7 linked regions of the Homo sapiens genome follow. The protein of the gene in region 1 purifies or fractionates together with the protein of each later gene. This does not show direct contact. Each region holds a gene or a part of one and is shown on either strand. Other genes may lie near its edges. The genes, in order: EDEM3, EMC2, NUDCD1, TRAP1, LMAN1, DNAJC10 and ERAP1.

Region 1 (3,500 bases):
TTGATTCTGAGAAAACCACATAGTTTGCTGAATAATTTTTAACCTAGAACCATATTCAGGTATCCTTTAATCTCAAATTCAACCCTCCCACAACTTCATCACACCCTCAAGTTTTCATCTCATCCATATTCTTGCCACATCCTTCCTTCTTTTAAGAGTATTCTTCCTTCTTCCTTGTATTTTATTTGGCCTCAGTGGGAGTGACATCTCTTGTGACATTGCTTTTACTTACTTAGGCTGCCAATGGCATAATTACTGCCAAGTGGCCTCTTGATCCTTATATGATTTAACTTTTCTGTAACTATTGGCTGAACCCTTCATAAAACATTTTCCCTTTTTGGCTTCCCAGGATATTTCAGAAACAAAGTTCTTTTTCTACTTCACTGTTTATTGCTTTGTAGCTCTCCTTGGCACAACCACTCAATGTAAACAGTTTCCAAGAATCTGGATGATATTCTTTTCTCTATATACTCTTCTTCAACAGTGTCACCTATTTCTACAAGCTTAGCTATCATTTTTATACATATGACTTCTTAGCTATGTATGTGAATCCTGATTCCTAAATTTACTATTAAATTCAACTTTCATCTACCTCTCATACATCTTGCATCTCAATCTCAATCTGTCCAAACTTGAATTATCTCTTTCTTGTTTACTCTCTTTCTACCCTCACCTCAACCTATGTTTCCTTCTTTGGCTCTCCATGTCAGTAAAACCTATCATCATTCTTTAAGTCATCAAAGCTGGAAATTTCAGGATAGGTTTGAACTCTTCTTCTCTTCCAGTTCCTCTTATCCTTTTCCATCCTCTAACTTCTATCATGTCTTGTTGGTTTTTCCTGTAAAGTATCAGGAATCATCTTATTTTTTTCTATTATAGTCATTCTTCAACTTTCCCTCTGTTAAGACTCAATTCAAGTGTCATTCTAAATCTTTCCCAGGTACACACAAGCAGAATCAATTGTTCCCTCATCTGTGCTCCTTTTCCACTTTCCCACTTGAGAAATTTTATCATAGCTAACTTTACATGTCTTTCTCCTCCAGACACAAATTTCTTAAAGGACTGTCTCTCCAATGCCTAGGCAAGTGCTGAGATGGAATAAGTGCTTCACAGATATGTTTTGAATCAAATTGAATCTGGTTGTTCACTATTTCAAGGAGGGAAAGTGTGGGTCAGGTATGAGGTTTATTTCTTCAGAGGGAAAGCCAGTGGGGAGAATAAGCAAAGTGAGCATTTGAGCATTCGCTAGAAGTCCAGTTCTCAATCTGAATCAAAAGTGGTTTATAGAATAGCGAAAGTGACATTGATAAAAAATACGGATAAGTTATTTTCAGAAATACTATTTCTGAAAGTATTATTTTTGAGTACAAATAAGGTCATAAATACTTGGTGGTGACCTAAAGTGAAAGAAGAAGTTGTAGAGTAGAATACTACAGTACAGTGTCTTTAGGAAATCAAAAAATTGGTGGAAGTTTCCAGAAAGGAAGGATAAAATGAATTTGTTTTTTTCATAGGCTGCTAGTTCAATCGACGCTGAAGATGGGTTGAGGTTCATGCAGGAGATGATTGAATTGTCAAGTCAGCAACAAAAAGAACAGCAGCTGCCTCCACGAGCTGTACAAATTGTTTCCCACCCATTTTTTGGCAGGGTAGTATTGACTGCTGGACCAGCTCAGTTTGGGCTGGATCTGTCTAAACATAAAGAGGTATGTATACTTAAAATATAGTTGTTGAAACTGAATTTAAAATATTAAGTATTGCCTTATTTCTTAGTCTCTTCTCTAATTTAGTAGTTTTAATTTATTTAAAAAACTGAAATAGTCAATCTCCTGGATTTAAGTAAAGTAAAAGCATGTCTTGAAAACTTTGAGTCATAATTTATGTATATAATATGCTTACAGAATTTTAACTAAAATATTATTCAGGTTCTATTCAATTTCTTGGTCTCTTCTCTAATTTAATACCTGTAATTGATCTAAAAATGGTTTTCAGACTTTCTAAGAGCCACTAGAACCTTTCTTTGAACAAAAGTCTAAACCAGGAGCTTAATGTAGAAAACAGCTAAAAGCACAGAAGCTCTGGCTCAAGTGACTGGAGAAAGCCTGGGACCCTGAGGTTCCACTGGGCAAACTTTGAAGATCATTTAGCTAGTCCATCCTCTATAGTTGTAACATAGTTATAACGTAGAAAACAAAGACTTACATAACTAAGCAATTCACAAAGTTATCTAACTAATTGATTGCAGAGCTGGGACCAGAGCCCAAGTATCGTGACAATCTAAAGCCAATGCTCTTTTCACTCTATTACTGCTAATTTAGACTTTTTTCTCATGTATATTTTAAACTATGTAGAAGCTATATAGATTGATTGATTCATTCAACTGTTGATTGAGTGCCTACTATATTCTGTGCACTGCTTGCTGTATCAGTTTACAAAACCAATGAAGATCCATGCCCTTATGGAATTTACATTTTAGTAGAGTGAAGGATATTAAAACATCTTTATAGTAACGTGTTTAAAAAAATTAGTTCCTTGGTGGATTTAATTTTTTTGGTAAAAAGAACTGCTTGCAGATTCATATAGACTAAGTCCATTTTTTCCCCTTTCAAAAACTTTTCTTGTTACCAATGATCATTTCAAATTAGTTCCCAGCTATTGTAAATGTAGTGAATCTGCCTGCAGGTCCCAACTTTACTGCTTAGTAACATCGTGTTAACATTGTGAGCAAATTACGTAACCTGAGTCTCAATTTCCCCATATGTGAAAGGGAAATGTTATTTGTATTGTTTTGCTCAGGGTCATTATAAATAACAGATTTTGTAGTTTATATAAAAATGTTCTATAAACTGCAAAGCACACTAGAAATATTGGTTGAGTACTGTGATATGCAAAATGTTTAAAACAATATTTTATGGTGACTATATGTTAGATACGTTATCATTAGAAAAGAAATGAGTTCTAGTTCTTTTAAAACTCTAGATATTGAGGTTTAATGACTTGATTGCCATTTGAGAAGATTAAAGTATTTAAGTTGCTTTTATTTCTGACAGACAAGAGGATTTGTTGCAAGCAGTAAACCATCCAATGGTTGTTCAGAGCTTACTAACCCAGAGGCAGTGATGGGAAAAATCGCACTGATACAAAGAGGACAGTGCATGTTTGCAGAAAAGGCACGCAACATCCAGAATGCTGGAGCCATTGGTGGCATTGTTATTGGTAAGTAATCATCCATGTCATTGTGTTGACTGAAGGGGAGATAATTTTTAGGATTTTTTCCCTTTTATTTTCTAAAATTTTATCAAAGAGTTTGTCATAGTTTTTTTTACCTCACCTAGACAACAAGGATAGGTAATCCAATGACTTTTAATTTCTAGATATCTAACATCTTTTTTAAAAGTCTAGATTTGAATTTCTGTATATTAATGTCAGTGAAAATACTTGGGTTTAGGTGTGAGGGTGAGGTAGGGCTGAGTAGTAAAAAAATTCAGTACCATGGATAA
Region 2 (3,500 bases), on another chromosome or scaffold:
GACATAGGTGAAAGAGCCTATAGCACAGGCTGGCATAAAACAAAGGCTTAACCTTTTTTTGAATCACATGGTCATATTCTTTTAAGAGTAAAATATATTTAAGAATAGGAATCAAGTTATATCTTACTCTTCACAGTAATATATACATTTAATAATTAGCATATGATTTTGGGGTTTTATGGATTCTTTCACAGATCCCAGATTAAGAACCGCTCATTTAAATACATTTTTAAAAAGGAGAGGGTGGATCAAATTGCAGGGACTAATTAGTTCTCTGAAACACAGTTTGAAAACTCATGGTATAGTGAAAAGAGAAATGGATTAGAGATAAGGATCTTCTTTATTTCGAAGACCCATTATTTTGCTTTGGTCAAGTTAAATCTCTCTTATTGGACTTAAATTTCTTTAACCTATTAATGTAGGATGTCAGGCTAAATTATTTTTGAGTTTCCTTTTTCTATAAATATTCAATAATTCTATGATTCTGACATAGCAAGTTATGTAATTCAGTAATAAGAAATAACACCAGTAATATCCTACAGTGGTAAAGTGCTTTTGGTTTATAAAGTGTTCTTCTAGAGCTTCTTTATTTAAATGATATGGAATTTTACCTTTAAGAGCTGTTACAGGTACATAATTAAATAATTTTAGGTATTATTTAAAATATCTTTTCCCTTTCCACTATTTTGGATTTATACTATATTTTAAAATATATTTTCATTTTTAAGCACTAATATTCAACTTTATGTTTATATTAAAAATTATTTTAATACAGTTTTTAAAAATTCTTTATTATCCCATTGCAACCATGTCCCTTATGTTTTTGATTATCTTGACTAGCAAAAAAGGAATTTTGCTTTTGATGTTTTTATTTGTTTTTAGTCGGCAAGTCATATTGCTTCTAATCCAAAAGCAAGTGCAAAAACGAAAAAGGACAACATGAAATATGCTAGTTGGGCAGCTAGTCAAATAAACAGAGCTTATCAGGTTAGTATTTATTGATCATTTTGCTATGTAGGTCAGTTAATGTATTTCTTAGTTTTGTTACTACAAACTACAAAGTCGTATGTCTAGCATTGGACTTATATATGCCTTTGGGGCTTTATCAAATGTGTTGTGTTTTGAATTAATTTGTAGTTTTAAGATTACCTTTTTTTCCCCTCAAGAGGAATCTGTTAGTATTATTATTTCATAATTAGCCTTACCATATGGAAATCTCAGTGGTTCTGCATTTGGCAAACGCAAAGTAATTCTAAAAACTCAGAAAGGATAAATAAATATCACGTCACATTTCAGAAGCAGATTGGGTATGTGAGTGTATTATTAATCATAGGTATCTCAAGAAATAGAAAAGAAGGAAGAAAGCCTTAAACTAATCAAACTGCATAACAAAGTTTGTGCAGTCTGCTTACACTTCAGATCCTTTACTGAAACTTCTCCATTTGTATCTTAGTTTTCTAAAGTTCGTCCTTAGCAGATTTTTTAGGAAATTATTTTTCGTTAGAAATTTGCTCATGGGAAAACACATCTTTTTATGTCTTTAGCCTTATTTGTCTATAGCCTTTATATTTAAAGGACAATTTGGCTTTTTATATACCCGTTAATACTTTACCTAAGTATCTTAAGCATACTGTTCAGTTTTGTTTTGTTTTTAATATAGACGAGATCTTGCTATATTGCCCAGGCTGGCCATGAACTCCTGGCTTCATGTGATCCTCTTACCTCAGCCTCCTAAGTAGCTGGGACTTCAGGTGCAGGCATCACCATGCCCAGCTATTTCATTCTGTTTCAGAATAAAATGTTGCCGTCAGGAAATATGATGCCGTCTTGACTTACTTTTTATCATAAGTGACTTGTCTGGTTACGCAAAGGAATTTTTTCTTTATCTTTAAAATCCAGTAGTCTTACTATGATTTGTTTTATTGATTATTCTTGGGTCAGTTTTCCCAAATACACAGTACACCCATTTAGTACATCAGTTTAGCCCTTTTATTTGAGAAAAGTTGCTTTTAGAATTACAAATATTTTTTTCTCTGCTTAGTTTTCTTTTTCAGGGTTTCAGTAATACGTGTATTAGACTTCATTTTTCTATGTCCTTTATTCATTTTCTTTCAAATTATTTTGTCATTTTCTGTATTTTATAAAAATATGAATTTGATTCATATTTTTCTTTCCTCCATGTTTAAATGAGGTAGTTTTCCTGGACTATTAGGAGACAATGTTTATGGAATGGCAGGGAGTTGGAGATAGGTTAGGGTAGCTTTCCCAGCTTGGCTATTCTATGGCCGTCTCCTTTTTTGCTAAAGAGAATTCAAATATGACCTCTTTGTATAGCCGGTCTTTCTTAGAACTGAGTATGAATGGCCAGTCTGTCTTAGAACTCAGTGTGACTCAGAAAGATTTTCTGGCTTCAGCCCTCTGTTCTGTTTCTAGAGCCCTCAAAGTCTTGAATTCTGAGGTGTTGCTCTCACTTTAAATGTTACATATTGTTGTTACAGTTTGTGTTTCTTCCTTTTTGTTTTGTTTTCTTCTGGGATTGCTGCCTCTGGGCATCACTCCTTTCCTCACCCCTCCTTGTCTGAACCATCTCTCCTTCTTGCCCTGGTGTTTCTGCCCTGTTCAGTTTGGTTTCAGTTTTTAATTGTTTTTCTTCAGGGTGTGAGGTTTTGTCCTTCTGGAAGAGGATGTTTGCTAGATATTTTAGAAATTTTAAGATATTAGACGGTTAGACTTGTCTAATCTCACATTTATGAGCAGTTTTTTACATTTATCTTTGTTTTGGAGCTTATGAAGACTTCTAGGCCATTGGCAGCTGCATCATCTCAGGTTTTCTTGTTTAGTGGATTAAGAATTCATAATTTGTTTGGTTTTTGGTTTCTTGTAGAGTAGTAGGTTGTCCTCTATTACTTTCTATTCCTCCTACCACACAGTTGTTAATCTTTTGTTGGTCATGCTGCTCTTGATGACATAGTCACATTCTAGGGTTTGGAAAATTGACTGTTACCTAGTTTTTTTGAAAATGTCACCTGTGGGCGTGGGTTCTGTTATGTTGGTTTTGGTGCTGGCTTTTTGTTGTTCGTTTTTGCCCTTCTGGTTGGAGAAAATTGAGAAGATTTTACAAATGTAGTGCCTCCATAATCACATCATTGAAAGTCACCTTTGTGTATTTTTATTGTCTGTTATAGAGCATGTTAGTTTTGTTGGCATATTCTAAGTCAGAGTATTTATAAATATTAGTGAGACTGTGCTTCTTCAAATGCAGTTTGGGATAGCTCAGATCTGTAATGGAGTTCCACACAGAGTAGGCTTGGGGGTGTGTGGGTGTGTGTGATTTATGTAATATTAAAAAAAAAGATTTGTGTAATATAAAAGTAACGTTATGCATACTACATAATTGTTTTTAAGATATGAGAAACAGCTACTCAGAGTGCTTTTTTGACATAACTATTTTAAAATCAATTTTTACTAAATTAATAACATAGAAATAAGAATTATAACAG
Region 3 (3,334 bases), on another chromosome or scaffold:
TTTTCTGTTCATAATGTATCCCTGAATGTACTAGTATTCGTGATGCATTCTCTTATTATCCCTAAAATGTTAGTGATATTTTTATACATCAATACCAACACTGTAACTGGATTTTTTTGTACTTTTAGCCCCCACAAGTAGAATGTTGATCACTATAACTTCAAAAATAATTTCAAGTCTCTAAACTGAAAAAAATCCTTATCTTAATTCATGTACATGTTTAAAAAGTATCTTTTTGGATTAAAACAACATTTATATTCCAAAATATAAATTATGATTTTTAGATAGTGACATGGTTAGCAAATGTTAGGTATTTATGATCATGTAAAATAAGAATATAACATTAATTAAAATTGAGATCTCATCAAACAATGAATAAGCAAAGGAACTACTGAGCACATGCAGATCAATACTGTTTTTAAAAATATTAAGCAGGTTTGAAGCAGGAAAAGTGAAGATTTAGATACCTATTTAAATAGTTTAAAGTAGCTATCCAGGCTAACCTTGACAGAATAATGTATATAATATTTCAAGAGTACATATCTAATATATGTTGATTTAACTTAGAATTAAGCATAGAATTCCCCTATAATAGGGGATTTGGGGATACAAATAGAACATCTGAGCATCTAAAGATGATATGATAGAGCTTTCTTCTGACCAAAGTATAGATAATTAAAAAATAGCATTATAGTAGGGAGGCTAAAAATTATATGGTTAAATTAGTTAACCAAACTTTGTACTTCAGGTCATAAAAATCCATTTGGAGTCTGAACCAGTTTAGCAGCCTACATTATTAACTATAAGGGATAATTAATAAATTTCTTCTACAATTAGGGTTGTGCACATATAGCCATCAAAATACGTAACTTCACTTCTTGCTGCCTGTTTAAAATAACCTTTCAATAAAGCAACAACTGTGGCTAATTCACATAAAAAATTTCTGTCACACAATACTAATGCATTTTGACAGAAAATCAATGATTGCATACGTCTATAATTAAGTAGTTTAAACATTGTCAAGCCCTAATTTTAAAACTGATTTTTTTCCTTTTATCCTACCAAATAAATTTAATTTCTGCTTATCACCGCTTTCCATAAGTATTTTCATTATAATGGCTCTCTTTTGTACTTAATTTTGACAAAAGATGTCTCCTAATGTGCATTACACCTTAGGGGAATTCTATGATGTTTCTGAAGATTACTCTGAAGAAACTTGAACACCAGTTCCATGTAGGGTATTATCAAGCTCCTTGCTCAGACTCCAGTATTATATGGCTTACAGAATTAGAAAAAGCAAATGACTTATTAGAATAATTCAAGTGGTTAGATAACCACTTTCATTTCTATTCTGTGTTGATCTTCTGTACAAGCATAAAAACAGATTAGTCTAAATGTTCCAACAGTGCTAACACTCACAACTAGTACAAGCAAACAAATCATAGCGCAAATCAATCTAAATGTAATCAGGACAGCTCAAATTAAAAAGAAAAAAAAGAAATGAACTTTAAATGAATGATGACTGTATTTCTGATTTCATGGAAAATGTCAAAGAGTTTGCTTTATACCTAAAGCATTGAAAGTTGCGATGTGCTCCCACATATCATCTTGTTTGCTGGAGTGTGGTTGCCAGAGTAGGGCATCAACATCATGGCGCAAACAGAAGCAGGGCATTTCTTTAGGATCCACTATGACAGAGAAAAGGTACTGGTTGCTTCCAAGATTCACCTAAAAAGTGATTTAAAAAAAAATTTACTCAACAACAAATTAATAATAGCAACAATAACAATGGCAGAAGCTGACAGCCAGCATTAAGTGTCAGCAACTGTTTTATACTTTTTATATACTTAATCTGATTGACTCCTCATAATATCCCTGAGATAAATGTGCTACTGTTATGTTCATTTCAAAGCTGAGGAAAGTGATGCACAAGGCATTTAGGTAACTTGTCGATGGTCAGCCTGGCCATAAGTCATGGAGCTGAAATTTGGACCCAGAGTCTATGTTCTTAATCACCACGTGATATACCACCTCTTAATTGTTAGTAAATAGTTTAAAACACGATATAAAGCAGGGGTCCCCAGTCACTGAGCCGCAGACTGGTACCAGTCAGTGGCCTTTTAGGAACTGGGCCGCACAGCAAGAGATGAGCAGCAGGCAAGGGAGCATTACTGCCTGAGCTCCACCTCCTGTCAGATCAGCAGTGGAATTAGATTCTCACAGGAGGGTGAACACTATTGTGAAATGCACATGCAAGGGATCTAGGCTGTCTGCCTTATGAGAATCTAACTAATACCTGATGATCTGAGGTGGAACAGTTTCATCCTGAAACCATCCACCAAGCCCCCACAGGCCCATGGAAAAACTGTCTTCCACAAAACTGGTCCCTGGTGCCAAAAAGGTTGGGGACTGCTGATATAAAGCACCAATTTTATAAGCAGACTATTTTTAGGCCATAGAATACACACATGAAGTTTACTAATGCTAACTTGTAATAATTACCAAGAACAATGACACTACCAGAATTTATGAGCACACTCTCATAACATTTATAACCAGGCATGTTATAAATACTAATCTTAACAACTCGCAAGGCTATTATTATCTTCATTTAAGGGATGAAAGAACAGGCTTGGAGAGTTTGAGTAACTTGTTCTAGGCTAAAGAGAAATATCACAATGCTGGAATTCACACTCAGATGTTTAAAACTATTTACTTAAACGTACTGCTTAATTAAAGTATCAATGTCAATATGTCAATAATGTCAACATTTGTTATTGTAACACATCAATAATTGTTACTGCAATATTGATGCCTAAAGAAATGCATTTTAATACAAAATCATCAAATTGAAACTCACTGAATTTCATCTACAGCAATACTTTTTCTAAATGAAGACATGTTGTAAGGATAGTCTTCTTTATGAGAAATGTTATTATCAGAGTTGAAAATACGAAACAGAATACCAACAAAAATCACATCAAATGTAGAAAATATAAAATATGCACAGTACTTATAAATATGTAATTGATTCTAGGAGTTTGCAAGCAGACTGGAGAACCGTAAAAGATTGGGTTAAAGTAAGAAGTGGAGACCTGACCTGAATTCAACAGGGAAAGCTGTGAAGTGGCTCTCCAGCAAGGGGACCTATTATTGGTAAAGCTGTGACAACACAGGCTATTGGTCACAGGAGAATACAGTGTCAGAGCAACCCATCTTCTGCTCCCCAGCAATGCCAGGGAAATAGGGCTTTTTCGTAGAGCCAGTGCTTGCTCTCTACAAAATAAGGGGAGAAGGCCAGCACACAGAGACCACAGACTATTTCTTTTCTCTC
Region 4 (3,500 bases), on another chromosome or scaffold:
ACCACACCCAGCTAGGTTTTGTATTTTTAATAGAGATGGGGTTTCACTATGCTGGCCAGGGTGGTCTCGAACTCCTGACCTCATGATCCACTAGCCTTGGCCTCCCAAAATGCTGGGATTACAGGCGTGAGCCACTGCGCCTGGCCTACCCTCAGAATATTTCTGTGAGGGGTGGGCTAGGATATCCGCTTGTGGACTTTATATTTGTCATTTTTGCCCATAACAGTTTATTCAGCAAATACATTTCCAATGCCCCCGAGTCGTCAAAGAAAATGTGACCCTGCTGTCTGGAGTCATAGGTGGCTGCTGAGCAGTGTACCAGGGCCATCTTGGTGGCCTGGACAGCACATTAGAGAAACAAGAGCTGCTTGCCCCAGGGTAAGTTTCACAGATGAGGAGCGATTTGGGCCGAGTGTCCAAGGCTGTTTTCACTGGAGGGGAGGGAGGAACGTTCCATGTCTGGAAAGCTGCAGGTGCAAGGGTAAGGAGATAGCTCTGAATAATTGGTTTGATGAAAGACTTGCGGGAGTGTGCAGGAGTGATGGTGAATGAGGCTAGCAGTTGTGTCTTTTCTGTCAGATATAAGCTTGTGCGTAGGAGCCTCATCCTGCATTCCTCAGGACAGTCACAGAGCCAGCCCTGGGCCTGGTGTGTGGGGAGCCCAGCCACGTGGCCCACCATGAGAGCTTTTCGTCAGAGCTCCAACTGTCAGAAGTGTCAGATGTGCCAGTAGAAGGATGAGGCCGCCTCCTAAAGGAGAGGGAAGACCTGGAAAGATCAACAGCAGACGCAGTCTCCCAAAGCAAACGTGATTCTGTGGTCAGGCAGGTACGGTGACGGGTTGGTCATTTTGCATGACGAGGTGACTGCCACAATCACCAAGGGTGCCGAGTCCAGTCTCCTGGTCATGCCAGATGCTCTTGTTTTCGTGAAATTGCCAGAACATGACTGAGGCAACCACGATAGGACTGGTTGGTGCAGGCGTTAAGATCTTGGGCCTTTTTGTTCTCTGTAAGCTGGAGCCTTTGCTGGAACTTCCTGTCTTGGAAATCAGAGTTGTGAGAGTAGGTCCCCTGCCAGCACCAGGAAGGTCGGGAGAGCTGGTTTCCTCACTTTGCTCAGGGCTCAAGTACTAGCTAGTTTGTTTCATCTTCCAAAAAGAGCCTCACCTGGACCCCGCTCCTGTAGGTGGTGCCTGCCTGCTGCGCCCTCCCCTTCAGTACTTCGTTTTGTTGACGGGTTTTGCCTCCTCCCTCTGCTCTCCCTTTGTTTGGAGCCTGTGCTGTTTGATTTCCGTGTCTTGTGTGCTGCACCCTTCAGGAGAATTCAGGTGAATTTCTGGTGCTCTCCGGCTGTTCTTTTCAGAGTGGAGGGGAGTAGTACTTGCTGGTCAGTTGCGACTCTGTCTGTGAAACAGCTCTTTGTGTTGCTGAGATGACGCTAGAGGTGTAGCGTCCATGACATGTTTGTCGTCTGATTAAGCTGTGGTGCTGGCACTTAGACGGCAGAGGAAGGTGTGGCCCAGCTGTCCAAGGCCACCAGGAGGACCTTCAGCTTAGTTAGGACCAAGGGAACTGAGTTATCTGAGTGCCTGAAAAAGAACACATCAGGCCGGGCGCGGTGGCTCTCGTCTGTAATCCCAGCACTTTGGGAGGCCGAGGTGGGTGGATCACTTGAGTTCAGGAATTTGAGACCAACCTGGCCAACATGGCGAAACCCCGTCTCTACTAAAAATACAAAGAAATTAGCCAGGGTGGTGGCAGGCGCCTGTAATCCCAGATACTTGGGAGGCTGAGGCACGAGAATTGCTTGAACCTGGGAGGTGGAGGTTGGAGGTTGCAGTGAGCCAAGATTGTGCCACTGCACTCCCTCCTGGGCGACAGTGCAAGACTCTGTCTTGGAAACAAACACATCAATCCGAATGTAAGAGATTAGCAAAGCGTTTATTGGTTACTGGGTGAGTAGTTGGCCTAAGCTAAGACAAAAGAGGAATCTCCAAGTATTTTGCTACCCCTTGGCAGGAAGAGAGGGAATGCAGCTTGCGGGGTGGGGATGGGGGTGTCAGGTTGATAAGAAAACTGTGGGAAAATAAACATTTACTCCTGCCCCCCATGTCAGTAAATACCATGTGACAAAGGTGAGTTCCATGAAAGAGGCTGTTACTGAGGCCTGTGATACTTGCTTGTCTCAAAATGCTGACATATCTTTTTTTTTTTTTTTTTTTTTTTTTTTTTTTTTTGAGACAGATTCTTTCTGTCGCCAGGCTGAAGTGCAGTGGCATGACCTCAGCTCACTGCAACTTCCGCCTCCTGAATTCAGGCAGTTCTCCTGCCTCAGCCTCCTGAGTAGCTGGGACTACAGGTGCATGCCACCATGGCCAGCCAATTTTTGTATTTTTAGTAGAGACGAGGTTTCACCGTGTTGGGCAAGATGGTCTCAATCTTTTGACCTTTTGATCTGCCTGCTTTGGCCTCCCAAAGTGCTGGGATTACAGACATGAGCTACCACGTCGGGCCTGACAAAGAATCTTGATAGCGATTGAAAATGTATCCATTCATACTCAAATGAAGTAAAAAGTGCTTTTGGGTTCAAAGCCAGAGAATGTTCATGGATGGCGTTTTTGGTGCCTCAAGTGTAGCCAGCTAGAACTTTTCTTACCACCGTCCTGCTTAGTCCTACTGAAGACCTGCCTTCTACTAGGAAGCTGCTCTTAGTCCACAAAGTGGCTTCCCTGTAGTTCCACAGCATTTAACAAAATAGATTTCAGGGAGTTTATTTGTGGTGTGGCTGGTTATTTCTGCTAAAACCACTAGGAATTACCATAAAAGCTGTAGCTTGGAGAAACAGTATCTACTTGCGGGAGTATTACTGCCACCTGTGTTTTTTTTGTTTTTGTTTTGGTTTTTGTTTTTTTTTTGTTTTTTTCAAGATGGAGTCTTGCTCTGTTTCCCAGGCTGGAGTGCAGTGGCACGAACTCGGCTCACTGCAATCTCCACCTCCCGGGTTCAAGCAGTTCTCCTGCCTCAGCCTCCCAAGTAGCTGGGGCTACAGGCATGCACTACCGTGCCCGGCTAATTTTTGTATTTTTAGTTGAGGTAGAGTTTCACCATGTTGGCCAGGCTGGTCTTGAACTTCTGACCTTGTGATCTGCCTGCCTCGGCCTCCCAAAGTGCTGGGATTACAGGTGTGCGCCACCGTTCCCAGCCCTGCCATTGGCTTTTTAACCAGGTGAATTCCTGTAGATTGGGTAGATTGAAAGGACATGTAGCTGAATCATTGGTTTTAAAAGGAATGGCTCAGTTACTTCATAGCCATATAATTAAGAAATGTGGCTAGAAGGTAAAAAATTGGCCAGGCCTGGTAGCTCATGCTTGTAATCCCAGCACTTTGGGGGCTGCGGCGGGAGGATCCTGTGAGTTTAGGAGTTTGAGACCAGCCTGGGCAACCTAGAGAGACCCCCATCTCTACCAAAAAACCCTTTTTTTTTTTTTTCCAATTAG
Region 5 (3,500 bases), on another chromosome or scaffold:
TCTTTAAGAGTCAAGAGATTGGCATTTTTACCAGTGAGAATGTGGCTTAGTCATGTATGAAATAAAGAGTACCATGGTTATTTGGAGGAATGGGACCGCTAGAGTGAAAGCTCCATGAGGACAGGGATTTTGTTAATATTCATTGCTGTGACCACTAAGCCTAAAAATAAATCCAAAACAATGCTAACCTAGTAGTTCAGGTTCAGTAAATATTTTTTGACTGAAATCATCAAAAGTGTATATTTTTGGTTTTAGTGACACATAATTACCTTATAGTGTGGAGATAATCCTTAAAATCTATCAAAACTGTTGTGAAAGTAATGTGACATATCTGCTTCTCCTCCCCATACTACTCGATAGAATCCTGGACTGTATACTTGAAAATTATAAAATACTAGTCTAACCCAATGTTATTAAGAACGTGAGTGTGCTAATGTCAAAAATAAAACATTTTAAGGCCAAATTGAGGGAATTTATATTATCTGCTAGCTTTTTATCTGAATTGTTCCCAGTCAGCATAAGTGATCAAAGGTGTACTTAATAAAGGCTGTGGCTAGCATTTGAACTCTATGTAGTATGCAGTTCTCTTAATGATCAACAGTATGAGTCAGACTTAATGAATTTAAAAATGAAACATAAAGGTCATTCTTATTTTGAATTTGTTTTAAACATCATCACATAAAATTTGTGAGTATATCCTGAAGCTGACTTTAGTGTTTGAAAAGTATTGTTTAGTAAATTTTGACAAATGTGTATACCCATTTAACCATCACCCCGATCAGTACACGGAACATTTTTATCATCCCAGAAAGTTCCCTCATGCCTCCTTAAAGTCAACAACCTTCTCCACAGAGCCCATCACTATTCTTATTGTTATCACTGTAGATTAGTTCTGCCTATTCTTATAAGTAGAATCACACAGTGTAATGAAAGAGAAATATTTTTCCATTTTAATTTTATTTAACTTTTTATGTATTTAGGAAGAGTACAAGTGCAGATTTCTTATATGCTTGTGTCATATAGTGGTGAAGTCTGGGGTTTTAGTGTACTCTCACCCTAATGAACCTGGTACTCAGTGGGTAATTTTCAACCTTCATTCCCCTCCCACCTTTTGTAGTCTCCAGTGTCCGTTATTCCACTCCATTTGTCCATGTGTACCCATTGTTTAGCTTTTACTTATAAGTGAGAATGTATGGTATTTGACTTTCTAAGTCATTTCACTTGGGATAATCACTTCCAGTTCCATCCATGTTGCTGCAAAAGACATAATTTCATTCTTATTTTATGGCTGAGTAGTAGTCTATAGTATATACATACATATATACACACACACACGCCACATTTTCTTTATCAAGTTCTCTGTTGATGGGCATTTAGGTTGATTCCATATCTTTGCTATTGTAAATAGGGCTGCAATAAACGTATAAGTGCAAGTATCTTTTTGATATAATGATTTCTTTCCCTTTGGGTAAACACCCAGTAGTGGGATTGCTGGATCAAACGGTAATTCTAATTTTAGTTCTTTGAGAATTCTCCATACTGTTTTCCATGAAGGTTGTACTAATTTACATTCCCACCAACAGCATATAAGCATTCCCTCTTCTCCACATCTTGACAACATCTGTTGTCTTTTGACTTTTTAATAATGGCCATTGTGACTTGTGTAAGATAGTATCTCATTGTGGTTTTAATTTGGATTTTTTTGATGATTAGTGATGTTGAGCATTTCTTCATTTATTTGTTGGCCACTTGCGTGTCTTCTTTTGAAAAATGTCTGTTCATGCTCTTTGCCCAGTTTTTTAATGGGCTTTTTGTTTTTCTCTTGAGTTGTTTGAGTTCCTTGTAGATTCTGGATATTAGCCCTTCGTTGGATGCATAGTTTGCAAATATTTTTTCCCATTCTGTAGGTTAGATTATTGTGTTGATTGTTTCTTTTGCTGTGTAGAAGCTTTTTAGTTTAAGTCCCATTTGTCTATTTTTGTTTTTCTTGTGTTTGCCTTTGAGGACTTGGTCTAAGTTCTTTACCTAGGCCAATATGCAGAAGAGTCTTTCCTCAGTTTTCTTTTAGGATTTGTATGGTTTCATGTGTTATGTTTAGGTCTTTAATCCATCTTGAGTTAATTTTTGCATATGGTGAGAAGTATGGGTCCACTTGCATTCTTCTATATATAGCTATTCAATTTTTTCTGCACCGTTTATTGAATAGGATGTCCTTTCCCCAGTGTTTATTTTTGTTGACTTTGTTGAGGATCAGTTGATTGTAGGTATGTGGGTTTATTTCCTGGTCCTCTGTTCTGTTCCACTGACTTATGTGTCTGTTTTTATACCAGTATTATGCTGGTTTGGTTACTTTAGCCTTGTAGTATAATTTGAAGTCAGGTAATGTGATGCCTCCAGATTTATTCCTTTTGCTTAGCATTGCTTTGGCTATTTGGGCTCCCTTTTTTTTCCATATGAGTTTTAGGATTTTTTTTTTCTAATTCTGTGAAAAATGACATTGGTAATTTGATTGGGAGTGTCTAGAACTAGTAGATAGTTTTGGGCAGTATGGTCATTTTAACAATATTGATTCTTCCAATTCATGAGCATGGGATACTTTTCCATTTGTTTGTGTCATCTACCATTTCTCTCATCGTTGTTTTGAAGTTCTCCTTATGGAGAGCTTTCCCCTTCTTGGTTAAATATATTTCTAGGTGTTTTTTTTTTTTTTTAGCTGTTGTAAATGGAATTGCCTTCTAGATTTGGTCTGCTAGATCATTATCAGTATATGAAAATGCTACCGATTTCTGTACATTAATTTTTTATCTTGAAACATTACTGAATTCATTTATCAAATCTAAGAGTTTTTTGGTGGAGTCATTAGGATTTTTGAGATATAAGATCATATCATTAGCAAACAGGGATAATGTTACTTACTCATTTCCAGTTTGGATGCCTTTTATTTTTTTCTCTTGCCTGATTGCTCTGGTGAAGACTTCTAGTATTATGTTATTACACGTAAGAGTGATAAAAGTGGCATCCTTGTCTTGTTCCAGTTCTTAAAGGGAATGTTTTCAACTTTTCCCTGTTAAGTGTGAGGTTGGCTGTGGGTTTGTCATATGTGGCCTAATGTTGAGGTGTGTTCATTGAGGATTTTTATCATGAAGGGATGATGAATTTTATTGAATGTCCTTTCTGAGTCTGTTGAAATGATCATGTGTTTTGTTCTTAATTCTGTTTATGTGGTGTATCATATATATGGATTTTTATATGTTGAACCCTCCTTGCATCCCTGGGATAAATCCCACCTTGATCGTGCTGTATTATCTTTTTGATGTGCTGTAGGATTCATTTTGCTGGTATTCTGTAGAGGATTTTTGCATCTTTGTTCATCAGGGATATGGGTCTGTAGTTTTCTATTTTTTTGTGTCCTTGTCTGGTTTTGGTATCAGGGTGATACCGCCCTCATAGGATGAGTTAGGGGGAATTCTCTCCTCAGTGTTTTGGAATAATTTCAGGAG
Region 6 (2,854 bases), on another chromosome or scaffold:
AATACATGTTCAAAGAGTAAATTAAAGAAAAAAGAGATGCTCAAGTCAATTTATAAGTAATCCTCACAAATGCTTGCATACCATCAGTGAACAATTATTTTTTTATCTCCATGCTATAATCTTGCACAAGTTTCATTAGAATTAAATGCACTATCTGAAGTCTATGTTTATTAAATGAGGATTACAGTAGTTGGTTATCTTTGTGAGGGGTTTTGAGGGTTGTGGAACAGGATAACATTTTGAGGTACAAAAAATAATGAAGAGGATATATTCCAATTTCTTTCCTTCCCCAAGGCTTTTCATTACAGCTGTTATAAACCCTGGTAGAATTGATTGGTTTCCTTTTCAGCTTCCTGTTTTGTCCCTCAATGTTCACAAAAGTCCCATCTGATAAATGTATTGTTTAACCTCTCATTGTTTGAAAGAACACCTCTTTGCTCCCCACAGATTACAGACCTATTGGCTTAAGCAGTCCATCTAAATGCATGCCAGTTTCTTTCTTGATAAATTAGAGGCCTATAACCTCAAACCAGTTTATCTGCAAGAGAAGTGTGTGAAGTTAGACTCAATTCTTCCGCTAATGGAACATCGTAATCCTCCTTGTCATCTTTCCTTTGGCCTTCCTGAATAGAAATCATTTATGAGGAAGTTACATGAGCTCAACATGAGCCCCATGTCACTCAGCAAACATTTATTTGAGTACTTACAATGTGCTAGGCTTTGTTCTATGCATTTAAGATAGTGTATTAAATGTATTGACCTCATGAAGATTCTATTCTCGCAGTGGGGAGATAGACAATAAACAATTAATATAAGCAAATGTTAAGTATGTTAGAAGTATGTTAGAAGATGTGCTGTGAAATAAAGAAAAAGGTAGACCAGGGTATGAGGGATTAGGAGTGTGGGGGCAGCAGCAGGAGAGTTTCGGTATTAAATAGGGTGGACAGGGCAGGTCTCTTGGAGAAGATGCCATTGAAGGAGGTGGAAAAAATGTAGCCACTAAATGGGCTGAGGGTAGAGCATATGAACAGAGAGAAAGGCCAGAGGACAGGCTCCAAGGCATGCTTGGCAGGTTCAAGGAACAGCAGGGAGGCTCATGTGGCTGGAATGGAGTGAGCTAGCAGGAGAGAAGATGAAGTTAGAGGGAGAGAGAAAGTGGGGAGCCAGATCATAGAGGGCTTTGCAGGTCACTTGTAAGGACTTTAGCTTTCTAACTTTTGTAAGGACTTCAACTTCTACTCACAGTGAAATTGTGAAATTCCAGAACCAAAAAGAAGATCCTGGTAAAAGAGAAACTTTCAGCAAAATATATTTAACATTTTATTTGAGTGAAGAACAATTCATCCATCAGGCAGCACTGAGAACCAGAAGACATTCAGAGAGCTCTGCTTTGCGAGGTATGCAGTGAACATTCATAGACAGAAAACAAAAATTAAGTACAGAAATAGCTTGATTGGTTACAGATAGGCATTTGCCTTATTTGGACATGGTCTGCTCCAAATAAGGCAAGTTGGCAGCATGCAATTGGCTGTGACCTATCTGTTACAAAAATATATCTATATAATCCTAAATTAGGTTTCAGTTTATTTAAGTACTAAATTAGGTTGCAATTTATTACATGGGAACTCAAAGTCTGGAGACAGCCTCAGGCCAAGGTCCTCTTGCTTATTTAATTTAGCAATCCTAAAATTTTCCAGAGAGGAAACACATCACACACACACACACACACACACACACACACACACACACACACACTACCTACAAAAAAATAACAATTAGAAAGTAATTGGAGCTTGAAGTATTCTAGAAGACTTTGGAGCAAAGCCTTCCAAATTCTGAGAGGAAAATATTTTTAACCTAGGATTCTATTCATACCTACCCAGACTAACAAGTAGCAGGCAGATGATAAATATATTTTTAGGTGGTTAGGTGATGAAACACCTCCTCCAAATGAAGGCATAAACAACAATGCATGGGGATCCAAGAAACAGTGACTCCAACCCAAGAGAGCAGTGAACAAATCCACAGGACAGCAGCTAAGTAGGAGGCCTAAACATCACCTGGGGCAGATGGGGCGAGAGAGCAGAGAGCTTGGGAAAGAAGTCTCTGAGGAGAAAGAATGAGGCAATAAGTCAGATGCGTATTTGCGGACCTCAGAAAAATTTGAGTACATAGGAAACAATAGATGAAGGATAGAAATAATCCATTCAGATTCTCTCCTTTGCATGATGACCACATTAAACTTACAGAGTAAGAAATGTCATTCTAGATTTGATTCTACTGTTTGTCTTTGCAGTGAGCTATGTTTTTTTATAACATGTAGAAGTGAAATAAACTTGTCACAAAAATGCAAATTGTGTCACCAATTTTCAGCTTAACAACATAAAAATAATTATATACACTGACCCAGGTTAAGGACGGGTAGAAGTACGAATGTCCTTATCTTCCAGAGTGAAGTGAGGCTGTAGTCAGGCATTGCAAACTCACATAGTTAAGGGTGTTTTGTAGGTAAAGTACATGACGGTAGTTAGTGCATGCACTATTTTAAAAAGGCAGTAGTTTCTCTGCTCCAAAAGAGTATTGTCATGAAGAAAGAGACCCAGATGTTCCAGTTTACCCAGAATTTACCCCAATCCGGGTTTTTATGTAAAATATTTCAAATGTTCACAACTACTTAAAACATTTAAATATATGAGGGTCAAACAATACCATATCCAGCCTGGGGTTTCCAGTTTGTGACATTGCTACAGCAGATGGATAAGAAAATGAAGTAAGGTGTTTGAATGTATGAAATTAACCAGTATAGATGTTAAACTGGCAGCAGCAGCTCTAGAGTATGGAAGGGCCATCCGGT
Region 7 (3,500 bases), on another chromosome or scaffold:
TAAAGACAGAGTCTTGCTCTGTTGCCAGGCTGGAGTGCAGTGGTGCAATCTCAGCTCACTGCAACTCTGCCTCCCAGGTTCAAGCGATTCTCCTGCCTCAGCCTCCCAAGTAATTAGGACTACAGGTGCGCACCACCACACCCAGCTAATTTTTGTATTTTTAGTAGAGACGGGATTTCGCCATGTTGGCCAGGATGGTCTCAATCTGTTGACCTTGTGATCTGCCCACCTCATCCTCCCAAAGTGCTGGGATTACAGGCGTGAGCCACCATGCCTGGCCTGAAATTCACATTGCTTTTATGTCTTTAAAATCAATCCAGGTGATTGATACGTTTGCCACAAACTACTGGGAAAATTAAGCTCTTTAAGCTCTTCCTGGCTAAATAAATAGGTAATTAACTTTTGGCATGACAATTTGAGGAAGACACTGATGTTATTAAAGGTTACCATTACATATACTTACAGGGGAAGTGGAGACCTCGTTCTAGTGGTGGCTGCCACTGTGTCAGCATTTGATTTCCAGGGTACTAGGGTGACTTTCTCCAAGGTCCAGTGTCAGTGGGGAGTGGTGCTTGATCAGATGTTCCTCTGATATGGTTCTGGTTTTGCTTCTTTCATGAGCCTGGTTTCCCAAATGTCCTGCAACTCTGTGACCCGTGTAGTGAGCCACTCAGGATCCCCTAATGATTCCTTTTCTGCCTATATCAGCCAGAGCTTGTTCGGTTGCTTTCAACCAAGAACCCTGACAGGTAGAGTTAATTTAAACTTTGAACATCAAATGATGCTTTCTAGTACGTGTTAATGATTGTTGCTAACTGTAAACATCTTTCTTATATGAAACCATAACATAGGGAAGGTCCTTTTACTTTCAGGAAAAGACCTAGTACTTTTGGAAGTTTATGCCTATTTCTGTGAATGCTGGGTGGATACATTCTGAAATTATGCTGTGTCAATAACATTTTAATGACATATATTTTTGCTTTTGTACATTTGTGCCGCTAGGTAGGTAGAGCAAGAAGATGGTGTTTCTGCCCCTCAAATGGTCCCTTGCAACCATGTCATTTCTACTTTCCTCACTGTTGGCTCTCTTAACTGTGTCCACTCCTTCATGGTGTCAGAGCACTGAAGCATCTCCAAAACGTAGTGATGGGACACCATTTCCTTGGAATAAAATACGACTTCCTGAGTACGTCATCCCAGTTCATTATGATCTCTTGATCCATGCAAACCTTACCACGCTGACCTTCTGGGGAACCACGAAAGTAGAAATCACAGCCAGTCAGCCCACCAGCACCATCATCCTGCATAGTCACCACCTGCAGATATCTAGGGCCACCCTCAGGAAGGGAGCTGGAGAGAGGCTATCGGAAGAACCCCTGCAGGTCCTGGAACACCCCCGTCAGGAGCAAATTGCACTGCTGGCTCCCGAGCCCCTCCTTGTCGGGCTCCCGTACACAGTTGTCATTCACTATGCTGGCAATCTTTCGGAGACTTTCCACGGATTTTACAAAAGCACCTACAGAACCAAGGAAGGGGAACTGAGGTATTTTTTTTTCTCTTTTTCTTTTAAACTGCAAGTGCTGCCCACGCTAAATTCATTATTTCAGATTGATTGTCTTTTAAAATTCCCTTTGCTGTTGAACTTTTTCTTCAGTTTTGCTTTTGCATCTTCTTTATAGTGTTAAAAATGGCTTTTTCCCTTGCTTTTTAAATCTCATTTTAAAATTCTATTTTAACCAATTTTCTTTCCCCCAGCTCTATCAGAGTAAATATCTATTTGTTTATTTGGTTCGATTTCTGAGACATAATAAACATGTTTAATTTTCCTGAACTGTGTATTAGTTTCCTAGGGCTGTTGTAACAAAGTACCACAGACTGGGTAGCTATAAACAACAAAATGTATTCTCTCTCAGGTCTGGAGGCTAGAAGTCTGAAATCAAGGTGTCAGCAGGCCCGTGCTCCCTCCAGACTCTGGGTAGAATCCTTCCTTATATCTTCCTAGCATCTAGTGGTGGCCGTGGATCCCTGGTACTCCATGCCTAGCACCTGCGTCATTCTAGTTTCTCCCTCTGTTAGTCGCATGGCCATTCTATTTTCCTATGTCCCAGTCTCCATCTTCTTATAAGGAAACCAGACATACCAGATTAGGGCCCAGCCTGGTGGCCTCTTCTTCACTCCATGATACTTGTAAAGACCCTATGTCCAAATAAGGTCACATGCACAGATACTACAGGTTAGGACTTCAGCAAATCCTACTAGCAACATATTAGAGGAAATACTTTTATCTCAGTTAAAACTTTTTTAGAGATCTCTTCTCACCTTGCTTTGGTTCTGTTTTTAAGGAGGAGACTTATTTGGGGGAGATTTTATGCTCAGTTTTAAAATGGAATTTTATTTGTTGGTAGATTATACTAATTTATTTTTCAAATTCCATATTATTTTATCAAGGTAAGAAAGTAAAATTTATTTCACTCATAGCCCCCTGAACTGACCACTACTTCTATTTCACTGGAATATTCTGCCAGACTTCTTTCTGGATATGCATATATATTATTTTATATAAATAGAATTCTTATATTTTCTCTTTTACAAGGAAATTTTTTAACTTAATATGTTGGGAAGATGTTTTATATAAATGACTATTACTAGACATCTTTTTAATGATTTTATTAAAATACATAGTTGTACATTAATATCTTTAATCCCTCGGGAATGGAAATGAAATTGTTTCCAATTTTTCAGTATCAACAACACTTTGATGAGCATTTTTGTAAATTATTTCTTTAGAATAAATGCCTAGAAGTAAAATTGGTAAGCCAAAGAGCCTATAAATTTTTGATAAACTTTGTCATTTTTTCTTACCCCTCACCAATAGTGTATATTGGCAGTCTTTTTAGAGCAAAAAAGGTCCCCAAATAAATGATCTCTTTTTAATTTACGTAACTTTGATTAAGGAAGTTGAGCAGCTTTTGATATGTTTGTTAATGATTTATAGGTTCTTCTTTTATGAATTGCCTGTTAATGACCTTTGACTTTGCCTGAGATTCCCTTGGTTGTTGGGGATTTTTTTTTTTTTTTTTTTTTTTTTTTTGTCGAGACGGAGTCTTGCTCTGTCACCCAGGCTGGAGTGCAGTGGCGCGAACTCGGCTCACCGCAACCTCCGCCTCCCGGGTTCAAGCAATTCTCCTGCCTCAGCCTCCTGAGTAGCTGGGATTACAGACGCGCACCACCACACCCAGCTAATTTTTGTATTTTTAGTAGAGATGGGGTTTCACCATGTTGGCCAGGGTGGTCTCGAACTCCTGTCCTCGTGATCCGCCCGCCTAGGCCTCTCAAAGTGCCAAGATTACAGGTATGAGCCATTTTTAGGATTACATATTTTTAGGATCTCACTATCTGTTAAGGCTATTAAGTTTTCCTCACATACTTCTTAAATGAATTTTCCCTGTTTTTTACTTTTTCTTTTTAACTTTTTTTTTTTTCTTCCCGAGACAGGGTCT

What was found.
Region 2: the proteins of EDEM3 (region 1) and EMC2 purify together in Homo sapiens (affinity purification with mass spectrometry, with the first as the bait; one large-scale study listed by BioGRID). This does not show direct contact.
Region 3: the proteins of EDEM3 (region 1) and NUDCD1 purify together in Homo sapiens (co-immunoprecipitation; one large-scale study listed by IntAct). This does not show direct contact.
Region 4: the proteins of EDEM3 (region 1) and TRAP1 purify together in Homo sapiens (affinity purification with mass spectrometry, with the first as the bait; one large-scale study listed by BioGRID). This does not show direct contact.
Region 5: the proteins of EDEM3 (region 1) and LMAN1 purify together in Homo sapiens (affinity purification with mass spectrometry, with the first as the bait; one large-scale study listed by BioGRID). This does not show direct contact.
Region 6: the proteins of EDEM3 (region 1) and DNAJC10 purify together in Homo sapiens (affinity purification with mass spectrometry, with the first as the bait; one large-scale study listed by BioGRID). This does not show direct contact.
Region 7: the proteins of EDEM3 (region 1) and ERAP1 purify together in Homo sapiens (affinity purification with mass spectrometry, with the first as the bait; one large-scale study listed by BioGRID). This does not show direct contact.

What each region holds. Positions count from the first base shown.
Region 1 is NC_000001.11:184,706,359-184,709,858, reverse strand, and holds part of EDEM3 (ER degradation-enhancing alpha-mannosidase-like protein 3 isoform 2 precursor), read left to right. Parts: intron 1-1,514; coding exon 1,515-1,706; intron 1,707-3,031; exon of another isoform or gene 3,032-3,050; coding exon 3,051-3,216; intron 3,217-3,500. UniProt on the Homo sapiens protein: Involved in endoplasmic reticulum-associated degradation (ERAD). Accelerates the glycoprotein ERAD by proteasomes, by catalyzing mannose trimming from Man8GlcNAc2 to Man7GlcNAc2 in the N-glycans.
Region 2 is NC_000008.11:108,478,124-108,481,623, forward strand, and holds part of EMC2 (ER membrane protein complex subunit 2), read left to right. Parts: intron 1-882; coding exon 883-987; intron 988-3,500. UniProt on the Homo sapiens protein: Part of the endoplasmic reticulum membrane protein complex (EMC) that enables the energy-independent insertion into endoplasmic reticulum membranes of newly synthesized membrane proteins.
Region 3 is NC_000008.11:109,243,754-109,247,087, forward strand, and holds part of NUDCD1 (nudC domain-containing protein 1), read right to left. Parts: intron 1,729-3,334; coding exon 1,569-1,728; intron 1-1,568.
Region 4 is NC_000016.10:3,711,025-3,714,524, reverse strand, and holds part of TRAP1 (heat shock protein 75 kDa, mitochondrial isoform 1 precursor), read left to right. Parts: intron 1-3,500.
Region 5 is NC_000018.10:59,342,266-59,345,765, reverse strand, and holds part of LMAN1 (protein ERGIC-53 precursor), read left to right. Parts: intron 1-3,500. UniProt on the Homo sapiens protein: Mannose-specific lectin. May recognize sugar residues of glycoproteins, glycolipids, or glycosylphosphatidyl inositol anchors and may be involved in the sorting or recycling of proteins, lipids, or both.
Region 6 is NC_000002.12:182,792,111-182,794,964, forward strand, and holds the end of DNAJC10 (dnaJ homolog subfamily C member 10 isoform 1 precursor), read left to right. Parts: 3' UTR 1-2,354; downstream 2,355-2,854. UniProt on the Homo sapiens protein: Endoplasmic reticulum disulfide reductase involved both in the correct folding of proteins and degradation of misfolded proteins.
Region 7 is NC_000005.10:96,801,446-96,804,945, reverse strand, and holds part of ERAP1 (endoplasmic reticulum aminopeptidase 1 isoform b precursor), read left to right. Parts: intron 1-1,002; 5' UTR 1,003-1,019; coding exon 1,020-1,543; intron 1,544-3,500. UniProt on the Homo sapiens protein: Aminopeptidase that plays a central role in peptide trimming, a step required for the generation of most HLA class I-binding peptides.